Homo sapiens: one gene and its partner. The protein of the gene in region 2 purifies or fractionates together with the protein of the main gene of each other region. This does not show direct contact. Each region holds a gene or a part of one and is shown on either strand. Other genes may lie near its edges.

Region 1 (8,814 bases), on a different chromosome or scaffold from region 2:
TGGGTGGTTTGGGGTCCTGTAAGACAAAGCTGCAGGAGCCTTTCTGGGCGTTTGGTGGAGCCTAGCGAGTAGCCAGCCCCAGAATCCAGTGTCTCCCAGGGAAGACGGCTCAGCGGAAAAACCCGGTTCATGCTGACCCGTGGCTTATCAGTGCTGGGGGACCTACAGAGTGAGTCCTCTAGGCGGCACTCCCTGCCTATGCAGGAGACCCCTGGCACCATCCAGGACTCCTAGCAATGGGAGGACATTCAGCTGGGCAGAGGCTGGGTTAGATCAGGACCCACCCCAGGCTGTCTAGGCTGGGTCAGGACGCCACTCTCTGTGCACTTGCTCTCCCCCAGCTCCTGCACAGGCAGAGCACCCAACTGCTGGCACAGAGACTCAGCCGGACCTGCTTCCGCCAGTGGAGACAACAGGTGGGAACCCAGGAGATGTCCCCTCTGCACTTCCTTCTCCATCCTCTGGCCTGTGAGGCCTGGGCAGTGAATGACCTTCAGCCTACACCTCTAGTTCAGTATTTTTACTATCACCCTCCCCAGGGCCACCTCCTCTACCACCTTCCTGTCATTTCCAGGCACATCAGCTTCCTTCCGTCTGCAGTCTGCATAAGAACAGTTACTTCAAGGCCAGTTTCTCTCTCTACAGTGTTGTATTAAAAAATACATCAGTGGAGGCCGGGCGCAGTGGCTCACGCCTGTAATCCCAGCACTTTGGGAGGCCGAGGCAGGCGGATCATGAGGTCAGGAGATCGAGACCATCCTGGCTAACACGGTGAAACCCCGTCTCTACTAAAAATACAAAAAAAATCAGCCAGGCGTGGTGGTGGGCGCCTGTAGTCCCAGCTACTCGGGAGGCTGAGGCAGGAGAATGGCGTGAACCTGGGAGGCAGAGCTTGCAGTGAGCTGAGATAGCACCACTGCACTCCAGCCCGGGCAACAGAGCGAGACTCTGTCTAAAAAAAAAAAAAAAAAAAAATATATATATATATATATATATATATATAATCAGTGGGCCGGGCATGATGGCTCACGCCTATAATCCCAGGATTTTGGGAGGCCGAGGCAGGAGGATCACTTGAGCCCAGAAGTTCAAGACCAGCCTGGGCAACATAGTGAGACCCCATCTCTACAAAAACAAAACAGAAAAATTAGCTGGGTGTAGGCAGTGCACACCTGTGGTCCCAACTACTCGGGAGGCTGAGGCGGGAGGATTGCTTGAGCCCGGGAGGTCAAGGTTGCAGTGAGCTGTGATCATGCCACTGCACTTCAGCCTGGATGAGAGTGAGATTCCATCTCAAAAAGAAAAATCAGCATAATATCTTAAAAATTAACATGAAATGTGTTTTAAGGCTTTGCTGGGATCTTGCTTTTTAAAAAGCCAAGAGGGATCACACAGAGCAGCATCCACACGTCCCCAGCTCCCTCTTCCCGTTCTGTTGTCCTGTTTTCACCATTCCCCGGACCTCAGGCCGCTGCCTCCACGCATCCCCCTGCAGGAGCCCTTTGCCACCTTCTTTCATGAAGGTCATTCCTCAGGCCACAGATGGAGCGTGTGTTGAGCATCTCACCGCCAGGCACAAGGCTGGCCCTTCCTAGTGGAGGAAGTGGGAGCCTCGACTAGAGAGGGAGCCAAGAGGGACGAGCTGGGCAGGGCCCCGTGATCACCACGGCCTCCTTGAAGGGGCTATAGGGAAATGATCTGGTCTTTCTGGCCCTAGCTGGCAGCCAGGAGGCAGGAGCAGCGGGCGACAGTGCGGGCCCTGTGGTTCTGGGCCTTCTCGCTGCAGGCAAAGGTAATTGGGGCTCTGCATCCTACCATCCCTGCCTCTCCCTCAGGCCTTAGCCCTGCCTTGGGTGGAGGGAGGGCACCTGGTCTGTGGGGGAGCTCTAAGCAGGGAGACCTGGGCCTCACCTCCTGCCCTCCCTGGAGGTGTGGGCCACGTGGCTGGCCTTTGTACTGGAAAGGAGGAGAAAGAAGGCGCGGCTGCAGTGGGCGCTCCAGGCCTACCAGGGGCAGCTCCTCCAGGAGGGTGCCACGCGGCTCCTGCGCTTTGCAGCCAGCATGAAGGCCTCCCGGCAGCAGCTGCAGGCCCAGCAGCAGGTCCAGGTAGGCCCAGGGCCCCTTCCTGTGGGGAGCAGGCAGGGTGTGGCATGAGCTGACCAGAGGCTGTGTTGTAGGCGGCTCACAGTCTCCATCGTGCCGTCCGCCGCTGTGCCACGCTCTGGAAACAGAAAGTGCTGGGCCGGGGCGGGAAGCCTCAGCCCCTGGCAGCCATCGCACCCAGCAGGAAAGTGACGTTTGAGGGTCCCCTTCTCAACCGCATTGCTGCTGGGGCTGGGGATGGCACCCTTGAGACCAAGAGGCCACAGGCTTCTCGGCCTCTGGGAGCTCTGGGCCGCCTGGCTGCTGAGGAGCCCCACGCCCTGGAGCTGTGAGTAGCCTGTGCTCACCTTGTCCTCGCTTCCACCCTGGGCAAAAGGTTGGATGGCATAGCAGGGAGGAAAACAGCCCTGACGGGATGGGACGGGCTGGTCACGGCCTTGTCACAGCTGAGCTGCTGGGAACCCCCTCTTCTCCAGCCAGATCCCATCCCTCCCACGGCAAGAGGGAGAGAATGGAGTGGGATTTCCAAACCCTCTCTCCTTTGCCTGCCAAAGCTCAGGAAATAGGTGTCCCCTCCTCTGCAACACCTTCCTACCCTCTCTCCCGTCCTGCTGACACGATCTTTTCCGGAGTCATACACGTAGTTGACAAAGGGAACAAGCTCAGCTCCTACCCGTGCCTGCCGGCCTCTCTTCTGCTCCATCACAGCCAAGACACTGGCTTTTTGTCAGAAGCCCCTCTTTCTTGTGTGAGCTGGCACCTGTCCCTCTGCCCACCCCTACTATGGTCTCCTCAAACCCTAACCTGCCCTGCCCCATGCTGATGAAGCTGGTGGCTCCCACAGCAACCAGCACTACCCGAGAGCCTTGGGCCTCGGGGGAGATGTCAGGTGGGTGCATGGGGCCTGGGTCCCGGTCCCTGCTGTGCTCCTCACTGTTTGACTGACCTTGATGGGATCCTGAACGTCTCAGAGGCTGCTCCCCTGTGACATGGACCCTGGCGACCTGTACACCAGCGTCACCAGGGTTGTTCTGCAGGTCAAAAGAGACAATGTGGGTGAAGCAGTCCCCTGGCGTCAGGTACCTTTTGTCGGAACTGCTGGGAGCTCTATGGCCCAGGCCCACCCCAGCTTACTTGCTGACCTTGGCCTCGCCTTTCCTGACTTTCAGTCTCCCTATAAAATTGGAGATCCCACAGAGATCTCAGACCCCCCTGCAGCCCCTGGTCAGCCCAGGGGAACAGACCCCATGTTTCTTTCCAGCAACACTGCCCACTCAGCGAGGAAGCAGCCGCGACGCCCACACTTCCTGTTGGAGCCTGCGCAGAGCCAGAGGTCCCTGGGGTGCAGCACCGTGGGCAGGCAGGGGGAGATGGTCAGGGGTCCCCAAAGGCAGCGGGCACCTCCATGTGGGGCCTGTGTTTTGGCAGCCCTGGGGTGGGTGGCCCCCTTTCCTTCTTGTTCTTTGGTCCCAGAGGAGGGTCCTGTGGCCTGACCAGGCTCTTGCCTTCCCTGTGCTCAGGCCTCAGAAGCCACAGGAACATGGCCTAGGCATGGCTCAGCCAGCAGCCCCCTCCCTGACGCGGCCCTTCCTGGCAGAGGCCCCGACAGCACTGGTCCCACACAGCCCCCTGCCTGGGGCCCTGTCAAGCGCCCCTGGCCCGAAGCAGCCCCCGACGGCAAGCACAGGCCCGGAGCTGCTGCTGCTGCCTCTTTCCTCCTTCATGCCCTGCGGGGCGGCTGCACCAGCCAGGGTACGTCCTCCACCACCAGGCCTGGGCACTGGGGCTCTCACTCTGGTCTGACTTCTGGTGCTTTCTCATGCCACAGCTGTACTAGTTTCTGGAAAACCTTGGCACAGGGAGGCCACTCATCCATTTGACAAGCATAGGTAGCCACTGCACACCAGGTCCAAGGGCCACAGCAGTGAACAGCCAGCCAAGGGCCCTGCCATCCTGAAGCTTATATTCTAGTCAGAGACAAGCAAAGAAAAACCCCTGCCTGCAGGCCAGTAAAGTGGCTGCAGATCACGTAGGGTCCTGCAGGCCACAGTGAGAAGTAGCCTGGGATTTGAGAAGAGTAGGAAGTCGGGGAAGGGTTTTGGCAGGGAGCACCATGTCAGGTTTCTGTGCAGGCTGTGGTCACCATGACCACGTGGTCCAGGCAAGTAGTACTGGTGGCCTGGGCTCAGCGGTTGCCACAGAGGGGACAGGTACTCTCTTGGAGGCAGATGAGGCAGGATATGCTGCTCTGAGGGAGTTGCTGAATGAGGGGAAAGAAGGAATCCAGGCTGATGTGGGCTGCTGGCTTGAATAACTTGGGAAACAGAGTTCTTTGACTGGAAGAAGGAACTGGGGGTGGGGACTGGTTTGGGGTGAAGTGTCAAGAGTGTTTTGAACCAGGCTCTTGATGTCAAATTTGAGAGAAAGCAAACGTTGAGTCTGACCTTCAAGGAAGAGGTCAGGGCCAGAGATTGAGAAGAATCTTCAGCACAGGCCGAAGGTAACCCCAGAGCCACTGCGGCCTCTAGGAGGAGAGTACAGGGGAAGGAGAGAGGGGAGGAGGCTCCAAGCAGGGAGCCTGGGTGGGGATGGCCAGGGGGTGTGAGAGCTCAGTAATGGAAGTGACAGCTGCTCTAAGGCCACCAAAGCAGCTGGTTCCTGAAAGGGGATGAGGGGACAGGAAGGAACCAGTTCCTGTGGTGAGTTAGGCCATGTGGGGCCACTTACCCTGGCTGGAATGGTTTGAATGTGGGTTTGAAAGGGTTTTGACCCCTGTCCGGTGATGGAAGGGGCAAGTCCACTCTCACCAGGAGAGGAGGGCATGGAAAAGGCTGTAGAGCAGTGGCCTCTCACTGACCACTTCTCACTGATGTCAAAGCTCAGCAAGGTCATGAGCTTAGAGCAGGTGGGGGTGGAGGGTTGGGTAAGGCAAGGCTAGGAACAGCTGCTCAGGCAGTGGAGGCGTGAGGCGGACTGTGGTGACACGGGGTGCTCCCTGGTTGCTTGCGGGACTTTCCCCTACAGTACCAGGCCCTGTGTGCAGGGGCAGGCTAGACACTGAGCTGGCACGGCCAGTGCCTGGGAAGCCCAGCTCCTGCAGCTGGGAGCCTGGTCTTCCCCCACCCCTGCAGGGCAGGCAGTGACAAGGACTTGGTGTCCCCCTCCCTGGCTTCCTCCTAGCTTCCTTGCTCAGCATCTACCCTTCTTTCCTTTGCAGGTGTCAGCACAGCGGGCTACTCCTAGGGATAAGCCCCCGGTCCCCTCATCCCTGGCCAGTGTCCCTGACCCCCATCTACTCCTTCCTGGGGACTTCTCAGCCACCAGGGCTGGGCCTGGACTTTCAACTGCAGGTGTGTACCTGGGGCCTGTCAGGGCAGAAAGCACTCAGGCCACTCCCGGACCTGGGACTTGCTATTTACCCTGGTCCCCGAGGGGAAAATAGTCTGAAACAAGCTTACTTCTGTCGCCATAGGCAGCCTGGACCTTGAGGCTGAACTTGAGGAGATCCAGCAGCAACTACTGCACTACCAGACCACCAAGCAGAACCTCTGGTGAGCCCTGCGAAACGCCCTGCAGCCCTGGCTACAGGAGCAGGTGTTGCCTGGAGAGGTGGGCAGGCAGTTCCATTTCCCCCGAGCCAGCTGCCAGGGTCCTGTAGGTGGTCTCGGTCTAGCCATGGAGGGGTGTGGGGAGCCCTCAGTGTGTGCTGTCCAGAAAGACCCCATCTCCACCATGGCTCTCTACCCGGCTCAGTGCTGCTTAGGAAGGCCCAAGTCGTCAGACTCACCTGTGCACAGAGGCTCTGCTTCCTATGGGGGGGACGATAAAGTTGAGCAAAACTCTAAAAACCCGATGAGGCCATGCTGTCCCCAGTGACTAATTATAACACTGATATTAAAGGTGCAGAGAAGGGCCAGGCGCAGTGACTCACACCTGTCATCCCAGCACTTTGAGAGGCTGTGATCCAGGCAGATCACGGGGTTAGGAGTTCAAGACCAGCCTGGCCAATATGGTGAAACCCCATCTCTACTAAAAATACAAAAATTAGCCGGGCATGGTGGTGCACGCATGTAGTCCCAACTACTTGGAAGGCTGAGGCAGAAGAATCGCTTCAACCTGGGAGGCGGAGGTTGCAGTGAGCTGAGATCACGCCATTGCACTCCAGCCTGGGCAACACAGCAACACTCCATCTCAAAAAAAAAAAAAAATGCAGAGGAGACAGGCCCGTGACTCAGCTGCACTCAGTGGTCTGGGGACCATTCAACATGCAGCAACCTCAGAGCTTCCAGGGCAACAGACTGGCGCCTCATCCTTGGCTCTGCACAGGGGGAGAGAGACAAGGAGTGTGTTCTTGCCCAGGCCCACCTGAGTTGCTGTCTGCTGGGGAGGGCGGAGGAGACTGGGAGAGGAAAAAGAACAAGTGTTTGGCTCCCAAGCAGGGGCCTGCAGTTCAGGTCAGGGGCCCTACCAGACCACCTCTCTCCACCCGATACCCGCATCAGAATTAGCTGAGGTGCCTCTCCCTGAGCCGGATGGGGCTCTGCCAAGGACCCAGCCTGGCAGGCAGTGGGTATCTCCACCCCTCAGGTCCTGTCGGCGGCAAGCGAGCAGCCTGCGCAGGTGGCTGGAGCTGAACAGAGAGGAGCCGGGGCCTGAGGACCAGGAAGTAGAGCAGCAGGTGCAGAAAGAGCTGGAACAGGTGAGGCCCCAGGCCATCCCCAGGTGTCCCTGGGGACGCCCCGGGCTGTGCTCCCTCTCAGCCCTGCCTGTCCCTCCATGGCCCCAGGTGGAAATGCAGATCCAGCTGCTGGCAGAGGAGCTCCAGGCTCAGCGCCAGCCCATTGGCGCCTGCGTTGCCCGCATCCAGGCCCTGCGGCAGGCCCTGTGCTAGCGTGTTCGCACCAGGAACGCAGGTGCTGGGCTGTCGGGGAGGCCTCAGGCCACCTCCAGGAACAGAACACAGTTTTAAGTTTGATTTTTTTTATTTCAAAATGCTTTGCAATTAAATGAATTACTGTTCAGAAGTCTCCCACTTTTCATACAAAAATACTGTGCTACTGATACAGTTGAAAAAATTCAATGATGTCTCTCCTGCAGGAGAAATTCACAGCATCCCCAGGGTCAACATGAAATCTGGCCCTGTCCCCGCCACTGGGGGCTCCCCAGGCCTGCGTTCCTGATAAACTGGGACAGGTTTTCCAGGCACTGACCAACTATCCACCAAGGGTCCTCTGCCTCCAAGACAGACCCTGAATCAATAGCAGCAACTTTCCCATATTTCATGTAGGGATATGTGGAGGGGGACAGGAACTCTCCCATTTCCCCAGCTGGGCCTACTACCTGCCTGCCCTGTTCACTCTGGTGCCATGAGGCAGGTTCAGTGATTGATTGGTCTTGCCTGCTGCAGAGGACCTGGCCAGCTCCAGAAGGGTCACTCATCAGGTCCTGCAAAGGTCTGTATCATTAATCAGTGTCATCAGTGTCCTCAGAAGACACTAGCAGAGTCCAGGGTGATGCGTTCAGCCACAAGCACAAAGACTGCTTTTTCTAAAGAGCAGGATGAGGTGAATGTGGGAACGGAAAGCAGTTGTCACGAAGGCTGTGTGGCTCTGCTGGGGGAGAGGCATCCACAGTCTGTGCCAAGGAGGCACCTCACCCTGTGCAGCAGGAGCGTTAAGGCCAAAAAACAAAAGGGGCCAACAGAAAACAGCTCAGGTGATGGGGGGAGGAGCAGCAAGAAAAAACGACAACCGAGACCAACTGAAGGTTCGGTCAGGAATGCAGGCTCTTCCGTCTATACAGTGTTTAAAAAGATCCAAATGTGACTGAGATCATTCCAGCCTGCACTTTTTATTTGTAGGCAGAAGGAACGGGATAGGTTGAGGGGCATGATGGGGGCTCTCGCCACCTCTTGTCTGCACCTCTGGAACAGGTGGTAGCCGAATCATTCAAGTCCTACCTGGTCAGACTCCCAACCACGCTGAGGCAGGCCCTTACCTGGATGGCCTCATGGGCCTCCCTCTTGAAAAGACCCTCACTCTGTTTGGAAAAGATCCCTTAGCAGCCATAATCAGGAAAGAGACTCTAGAGCGAGCCCAGGGCTTCCCCAAAGCGGATTTTCTGTCCTGTTTTCAGCTGGAAATTGAAGTCCTTGGGGGCCTCGAAGATGAGCACGATGGTGGAGCCCAGGTTGAACTCGCCCAGGTGCTCGCCCTTACGCATGGGGACGCCCTCTCTATTGGTGTGCGTCACGAAGCTGAAGTCATTGTAGGAGCCCTTGCTGTGCCTTGGGCTGTTTGTGTGCAGGTCCTGTGGTGATAGGCTGGGGGTCAGTGGGGCCCAGGCCACCAAGTGCACAGTGTCACCCCCACATGTGTTTGGAGTCCCACTCCCTCTGTTGCTTGTCCCCACCACCACCCAACCCAGCTCCAAAAGGGAGGTGGGGATGGCATCTCAGGGCCAGGTGGGCCTGCTCTAGCCAGATCTCACACACAGCCTTGACACCTGCTGTGAACTGGGCCCAGGGAGGACAGGGAACAGTGGGGCCCAGTGGTCTCCATGCATGGTGCTGGGAGAGCAGCACCCGTGGGAGCCAAGGCCGTTGGTCACAAACTGACACCCAAAAAGGCAGCCCCTGGGGGCAGGGTGGGCAGCAGACCTGCGAGTGCTGACCCCTCATGCTGTAACCAACATGAGCCACCCCGAGCTCAA
Region 2 (8,814 bases):
ATTCTAATAGAAAAATTGCATGTTAGCAGCAATCAGAGTACAGCAGTGATTTCTTGCTAGGCTATTTTACTCCTTTTCTTGAATGTTTGTGGTCTTGAGTTTCTCCAAATAAACACACACACACACACACATACATACACACTCACACTAGAGTACAGCTGGGAGAATACAGGTGGGGACTGTATTCTTTCTTCCAGAATCCATACCTCTCTGCACATTAGAGAACTAGTTAAGGAAAGAAAACATTCAGTGTGAAGTCAAATCCTTAATTCAAAATCAGAGAACATACAGAAGAAAGAAAGTCTATGAGAATAATGAATGTTAAAATGCCTTCAGCAATAGTCACACTTGATGTATCAGAAAAGCCACTGTATTAATCTTTTCTCATGCTGCTGATAAAGATGAGACTGGACGATTTACAAAAGAAAGAGGTTTAATGGACTTACAGTTCCACACGGCTGGGGAGCCCCCACGATCATAGCGGAAGGCAAAGAGGAGCAAGTCATGTCTTACATGAATGACAGCAGACAAGAGAGAGCTTGTGCTGGGGAACTTCTCTTTTTAAAACCATCAAATCTCGTGAGACTTATTCACTATCACAAGAACAGCCTGGGAAAGACCTGCCCCCATTATTCAATTATCTCCCACTGGGTCCCTCCCACAACACGTGGGAATTATGGGAGTTACAAAATGAGATTTGGGTGGGGACACAGCCAATCCATATCAGTAACATAATAGAGAAACACGATATTATGACTAGGGTAAGATCTTCATCCAGAAAGAATAACTCACTGAATATCAGGGAACTCTTAAGAAAGAGAAATCCTATCAATGCAAAGAATGTGGGAAATCCTTTTGCCAGAAAACAAAACTCTCTGTAGATTGGAATATTCACAAAAAACCCTAATGAAAAAAATGTAGAAAAGGCTTTATCAAGAAGTTGTAACTAATGGAACATCAAACATTATTCTGAATATTTTGAAAGTGAAAATTTTCAACAAGAAATTTAAAACCTGGAGCAATTCTATCAAGTTAGCGATTATATCAAGAACATGTTCTCCTAGCAATAATCCTGAAAGTCTTATTTTAAATGTGATTCTAAACCTTGTACATAAAGTGTATTAGATTTTAATACAATATTAATAAATCTAATAAAATATTAGATTTTATTAGATCTAATAATAAATCTAATAAAATATTAGATTTTATTAGATCTAATAATAAATCTAATAAAATATTAGATTTTATTAGATCTAATAATAAATCTAATAAAATATTAGATTTTATTAGATCTAATAATAAATCTAATAAAATATTAGATTTTATTAGATCTAATAATAAATCTAATAAAATATTAGATTTTAAATCTAAATGTTAGTAATCCCTGCTCTCTTTTCCCCCCCCACTCAGTGTGGGTAGTAGTTTCTCATTTTTATTGATTACCTCAACAAAATCAGCTTTTAATTTTTTCTTGTTTGTCCTCTTTTCAATTTCAACAATTTCCATTCCAATCTTTACTATTTCCTTTCCTCCACTTATTTCGGGCCTTATTTACTCTTTTTTGTAGTTAAAGGTAGAAGATAATTAAAGGTAGAAGCTGAGGTCATCAGTTTGACACCTTTATTCTTTCCTAAACATAGAAAGTTAGTGCTACCACTTTCCAAGTATTGCTTTCAATCCATCCTACAAAATTTGAAATGTGGTCTTTTCATTCAATTCAAAATACTTCCTAATTTTTCCCTTTTGATTTTTTCTTTGACCTATGAGTTATTTAGAAGTGTGCTATTTGTTTGGAACTTTTAAACTTTTACTTGGAACAACTATTTGCAACTTTTCCAGACAGCTTTGCTATTGATTTCTAATGTCGTTCCATCACAAAGAACATACTTTGTACTTTAAATGTATTGACATGTTTAATGGCCCAGAGTATGACCAATTTTATTAAATATACTGTGTAGACTTGAAAAGAATGTGTATTCTGCTTTTGTTGGGTAGAACATTCTATAGATTACAATTAGGTCACACTGGTTGACAGTGCTGTTCACGTCTCCTATATCCTTATTGATTTTATGTCTACTTGCTTAATTATTGATAGGGGTGTTGCAACCTCCTACCATCATTATGGATTTGTCCATTTTTCTTTACAGTTTTATTAGTTTTTTGCTTCATGTATTTTGAATTTCCATTATTAGGGGATTTTTTTTTTTTATTTTTTTTTTTGAGACAGAGTCTTGCTCTGTCACCCAGGCTGGAGTGCCGTGATGCAATCTGGGCTCACTGCAACCTCCACCTCCTGGGCTCAAATGATTCTCGTGCCTCAGCCCCCCGAGTAGCTGGGATTACAGGCATGCACCACCATGTCCAGCTAATTTTTTTGTATTTTTTCGTAAAGACGGGGTTTCATCATGGTTGGTCTCAAACTCCTGGCCTCAAGTGATTCGTCTGCGTTGGCCTCTCAAAGTGCTGGGATTACAGGCTTGAGTCATGGCACCTGGCCAGGGGCATAAATGTTTAATTCCCTTAATGAACTGGCTCTCCTTATCCCTGGTAATATTTCTTCTTCTGAAGTCTACTTCATCTGATATTAACATGCTCACTTTGGCATACTTTTGGTTAGTGTTCAGTACAGTATATATTTCTAATCTTTTTTGCCCTTATGTTTAAAGTGGGCTTCTAGGCAACACAGAGTTAGTTGGTACTCTTTTATCTAATTTAACAGTATCTCCCTTTCAATGGGGCTGTTGAGATCATTTACATCTAACTAAAACATTAATGATTGGATTTAAATCTACCATATTATTTTTCTACTTGTCTATTTCCATCTATTTTTTGTTCCCATTTTCTTCCTTCTGTTGAATTAATTAAGTTTTTTAAGAGATGAGGTCTCACTCTGTCGCCCAGGCTGGGGTGCTGTGGTATGATAATGGCTAAGTGCAACCTCAAACTCCTGGGCTCAAGGGATCCTGCCTCAGCCTCCCAGGTAGCTAAGATTACAGGCACGTGCCATCATGCCTGGCTTTTTTTTTTTTTTTGCTTTTTTGTCGATTCAGAGTCTCATACTATGTTGACCAGACTGGTCTTGAACTCCTGGCATCAAGCAATCCTCCTGCCTTGGCCTCCCAAAGTGCTTGGATTACAGGTGTGAGTCACCACTCCCAGCCAACTGCTGTCATTTTTATCTTTGTTCCTATTCATATGTGTCTTTTTTTTCCCTAGATACACTTATGATTTTTTAACATACTAAAAAAGGAAAGATACTATTAAGGATGTTATTAGATCAACTGACAAAATATAGATGATAAATCAGATAAAACAGTATCAACATATATTTATGAATATGATAAGCATATTTTGGTTATATTCATTACAGAAGAGAAGGGGATAGTGGTAGAAAGTGCAAAGGAGAAGGAAGATGGTGTAAAATGTTAACAATGTCAATCTGGGTAAAAGGTATACCTTACACAGAGAGTAAGCTATTCTCTGTACTGTTTTATTTTGAACTTTTTGGAAGTTTTAAATTATTCAAAAAAAGGTAATATTTAAAAAGCCAATCTAACATGCTCTGGATCCTATCCCCTTACACAATAGGTCTCCTTCCCTCCCTCTCTCTCATCTTCCTTCCTCCTCTTCACTAGATCATTCTGCTAAGCTTGGAAACATGTTCTTCCATTTAAATAGAAACAAGAAGAAGCAAACAAAACATCTCTTGATCTATTGCCACTCTGGACTTAACAAAAGACTCATCTACTCACATTGTCACACTTCATCATCACTTTCCACTTATCTTCAACCCACTCTGCCCTCACCACACTTTGAAATGCCTCTTGCTAAAGTCATCAAACACCTCCAGGTGGCCAACTCCAAAGGATACTCATCAGTTATGCCACCTCACCTTTCAGGAGCATTTGATAGTGCTGACCACACCTTCCTCATTAAAATATCTACTTCTCTTGGCTTTTGATCAAACACTCTTGATTTTCCTCTTGCCCCTCTGTCACTCCTAAGTCTCCTTTGCCATTTCTTCATCTTCCACCTGACTTCTACTGGCTAGAGTTCTTAACATTCTCAGTCCACTCTATCTCTCTAGGTGGTCTCATTCATTCTCATGATTTTAAAATCTGTCTACAGGTTGATGACTCCCAATTTCTTCAGCCCAGAACTTACTTCTGAAATTCATCCAATCTGACTGCTTTGACATAGTAAACTAACACTTCTCAAACATACTCAAAATTGAGCTCTTAGTCTCCCTCACCCCCAGGTATTGCCTGCCCCCTGCTCCCACCCCACCGCCCCACCCGTCTGCCATCTTCTCTTTTCAGTAGGTGCCATGTCCATTCATCCAGCTGCACAAGTCAGAAAACCTAGTATCATTTTTTGAATGTTAAAATTATGAATGATATTTTTTCTTTATGCACTTCAACAGTTTAAAATTTCCCTGTGATAAACATATTTATAAATAATCAAAATTAAAAGAACCTCAAAAGAACACATACAAATGGCAAACAGGCATATGTGAAAAGGTACTCAATATCATTGATCAGAGAAATGCCATCAAAACTACAATAATATCATCTCACCACAGTTAAAATGGCTTTTATCCAAAAGACAGGTAATAACAAACGCTGGCAAGGATATGGAGAAAAGGGAGCTCTTATTAAACTGCTGGTAGGCATGTAAATTAGTACAATCACTATGGAGAACCATTTGGAGGTTCCTCAAAAAACTAAAAATAAAGCTACCATATGATCCAGCAATCCCACTGCTGGGTATATACCCAAAAGAAAGGAAATCAACATATGGAAGATATCTGCATTCTCATATACTGTTTGTTGCAGCATTGTTCACAATAGGCAAGATTTGGAAGAAGACTCAGTGTCCATCAACAGATGAATGGATAAAGAAAATGTGGTACACATACACAGTGGAGTACTATTCAGCAATAAAAAAGAATGAGATCCTGTCATTTGCAACAACACAGATGAAAATGGGAGGTCACTATGTTAAGTCAAATAAGGCACAGAAAGTCAAACACTGCATGTTCTCACTTATGGGATCTAAAAATCAAGACAATTTAATTCATGGACATAGAAAGTAGAAGGATGGTTACCAGAGGCTGGGAAGGATAGTGAGGATGTTGGGGAGAGTTATGGATGGTTAATGGATACAAAAAAAAAAAAATAGAGTAAGACCTAGTATTTGATAGTACAGAATGGTAACTATAGTCAATAACAACTTAATTGTACATTAAAAAATAACCAAAAGAGTATAATTGGATTCTTGGTAACATGAAAGATAAATGCTTCATAGCATGGATACCCCATTCTCCATGATGTGACTATTAATACCTAGTATTTGATAGCACAATAGGGTGACTAGAGTCAAAATGATAAACATTTTAAAATAACTAAGAGTGTAACTGGACTGTTTGTAACACAAAGGATTAATGCTCGAGGAGATAATTATCCCATTTCCCATGATGTGACTATTACACATTACATGCCTACATCAAAACATCTCATGTACCACCTCTCTATATATACACCTACAAAAATTAAAAATTAAAAAAAAATAAAAACCACCAAAACCTTTCTTTTGGACAACGGGAAACAAAATAAAGATGTGCTTAAATATAATGCTATATAGTTTTTATTTATTTATTTATTTGGAGACAGAGTTTCACTCTTGTCGCCCAGGCTGGAGTGCAATGGCTCAATCTCAGCTCATTGCAATCTCTACCTCCTCAGTTCAAGCAATTCTCCTGCATCAGTCTCCAGAGTAGCTGGGATTATAGGTGCCTGCCACCACGCCCAGCTAATTTTTTGTATTTTTAGTAGAGACGGTGTTTCATCATCTTTGCCAGGCTGGTCTCAAACTCCTGACCTCAGACGATCCACCTGCCTTGGCTTCCCAAAGTGCTGGGACTACAGGCATGAGCCACTGCACCCAGCCTAGTTTCTGTTTTTAATTTTCATTTTGTGAGTGTTGTTAGTCTGTTTTCATGCTACTGATAAAGACATACCCAAGGCTGGGCAACTTAGAAAAGAAAGAAGTTTAATGGACTTACATTTCCACGTGGCTGGAGAAACCTCACAATCATGGCAGAAGGCAAAGAGGAGCAAGTCACGTCTTACATGGATGGCAGCAGGCAAAGAGAGAGCTTGTGCAGGGAAGCCCCCCCTTATAAAGCCATCAGATCTCATGAGACTTATCCAGTATCATGAGAACAACATGCGAAAAACCCGCCCCCATGATTCAGTTACCTTCCACCAGGTCCCTTCCACAACACATAGGAATTTGAGATGAGACTGATGTAGGGACACAGCCAAGCCATCTCAGTGTCTAAATAAGGTACTAAAAATTAATATTAACTTTCATATTACCAGAAGTATTTGGATTTATTGAAGACATCACAGAATCCACTTCTATCTAGAAAAGAGGAAAAAATAATAGAACATGTAATTTTATCACGTTTTCACAGTGCAAGTTCTTAATTCTTCAGGTGGGAATAAGGATCTATTTTATGAGAAACCAAGTCTGTTGAACCAAGCAGACAAGTAATGATACACAATAGCTATAATAGTCATTTTATTTTTCCATCAACATCTATAAAATAGCAGACACTAATCTGCTAGTCCCTAATAGCCCCCAAAACTTTATTCCATTGACCAAAACAGTTTAAGAACAGAAAATCAATTTGGCTGTCCCATATATAATATAATCTAACAGGCAGGCAGCCTTTCTACTTTAGACAAATACAACTGTTATAATGGGCTCTATGGCTCTATTTTTAAGATTTTTTTCCTAATTATAAAAGTATCACATGATTGATGTAGAAAGCATGAAAAATACAAAAAATTATGAAGAAAATTAAAAAATCAGCCATCCAATGAAAATCATTGTTATCATTTTAGACTAATCAGCTTTTTTCCCCTATGCATCTTTAAACATTTGAGACTTTACTGTATAGAAAATATGAGGACCTGCTTTCACTAAATGTTAAAATATAAGCCCTTTACCACACTGTTACAAGGGCTTTATAAACGTTATAGTATTAGAGCCTTCGCAGCATCTGACATAATTTCTCCACTTCTGGTCTCGAACCCTTCCCAGTATTTCCTGCATTTTCCTGGTTCCTCTTGTTCCTGCCAAATGGTTCCCACTCCCACTTCTTCAAGTCCCCTCCTACCCTTAAATGCTTGTATTCCCTAACGTTCTATCCTCAGACCATGGCTCTTCCTATTCTGCATACTCTTCCTGGGCAATGCCATCCAGCCTCGTGTTTTGAGCAACCACATGGAAACCAAGGAGCCCCAAGTCTATCTCCAGCCCTATCCCCTCCACCCAATTTCAGATTGCTACATCTCAGGGAAGCAGTAAAATCTAACGGTGGATTTTCACCACCATAACCTCAATAGCCAGCATATTATTTAACGAGTGAATGCACCTGGAATGCTCATAGCTGCCTCAAACTCAATGTGTTCCAATCGAAACTCACTGACTTCCTCTGAACCTACTCTTAAATTTTCTCTTAATTGGTGGCATTGCTATCCCTTCAGTCCCAGTGGTCATGTCACTCTTACCACCACCACATCCAATCAGTCATCAGGGCCTAACTTGTCCCACCACCCACAAAGTGTTCCTAGATACTTATCAGAGTAGTCTATCTTCTCTAGTCTAAATGACCACCCAGACTGTTATAGTTACCACTAGAATTAGGCCTTCCTTCTTTGCTCCCTTCACTTTGTTTTTCAATCTCTTCTCTTTCTTGGTATCTATCACAGTTTTATGTCTTTCTATATTAAACTCTGAACTGCTTCGAAGTAGAGACTGTGTTTCATTCATCTTTATATCACTAGCAACTAGCAAGTACTCCTTTTATTAAATAGAAACAATAAATTTCATTGTGTATGGGTGGGCACAGTAGCTTATGCCTGTAATCCCAGCACTTTGGGAGGCTGAGGTGGGCGGATCACTTGAGGTCAGGAGTTGGAGACCAGACTGGCCAACATTGGTGAAACCCCATCTCTACTAAAAACACAAAAAAAAAAAAAGAAAAAAAAGAACCGGGTATGGTCGTGTGCACCTGTAGTCCCAGCTACTCAAGAGGATGAGGCAGGAGAATTGCTTGAACCTGGAAAGTGGAGGTTGCAGTGAGCCTAGATCACGCCACTACACTCTAGCCTGGGTGACAGAGCAAGACTGCATCTCAACAAATAAATAAACTTAATTATGTAAAAAACTGCATGAATGTATAAGTGATTTATTATATAAGTATTTTATTGCTTCATGACCTGCAGTCAGTGAATATTTCATTTGCTCAAAAGCAATATTAAAAAATTAAACCCCAAACCTCAACCTAGTCTAAAAAAATCTGTTGAATTTCACAGAAATTAAGTGTCACCTGCATAATAAAAGTTCATTGTACAAATGACTAAGTTTATAGGTGACATGCTATTAGTAAATACCGTTTAGTGACCTGCGGTTACTAAATAGTTCATTTGCTTAAAAAATAAAATAGAAAACCTCACCTCAATATGAAAAGTAAAATCTGTTAAATTTCATGGAGTGTATGTACAGTATGTTACATCACTGTATCTGTCATTAAATTCCTCATTCTAAAATTGAAACCAAATAGACTCAAGGGTGATAAAGGCAAAAATGAGACAAGATACCTTTCCAGGTGAATCCAAGTTAAATACAATGCTTCACAGGCTGACTCTTTTCAGCTGACCTGCTTTGTAATTCCAACTGAAATGATTACAGGTAAACAGGAGAGCTGCCATTTCTAAGAGTCAGCCCTGACTACTTCTCTGA

The links.
Region 1: the proteins of EFCAB11 (region 2) and SFI1 purify together in Homo sapiens (co-immunoprecipitation; 2 studies listed by BioGRID and IntAct, with this or other methods). This does not show direct contact.

Annotation. Positions count from the first base shown.
Region 1 is NC_000022.11:31,611,425-31,620,238, forward strand, and holds the end of SFI1 (protein SFI1 homolog), read left to right. Parts: intron 1-341; coding exon 342-416; intron 417-1,717; coding exon 1,718-1,792; intron 1,793-1,929; coding exon 1,930-2,106; intron 2,107-2,177; coding exon 2,178-2,431; intron 2,432-3,364; coding exon 3,365-3,436; intron 3,437-3,623; coding exon 3,624-3,855; intron 3,856-5,320; coding exon 5,321-5,453; intron 5,454-5,575; coding exon 5,576-5,654; intron 5,655-6,690; coding exon 6,691-6,802; intron 6,803-6,889; coding exon 6,890-6,994; 3' UTR 6,995-7,164; downstream 7,165-8,814. Other genes in the region: PISD (phosphatidylserine decarboxylase proenzyme, mitochondrial), read right to left, coding at 8,188-8,412. UniProt on the Homo sapiens protein: Plays a role in the dynamic structure of centrosome-associated contractile fibers via its interaction with CETN2.
Region 2 is NC_000014.9:89,943,717-89,952,530, forward strand, and holds part of EFCAB11 (EF-hand calcium-binding domain-containing protein 11), read right to left. Parts: intron 6,427-8,814; coding exon 6,381-6,426; intron 1-6,380.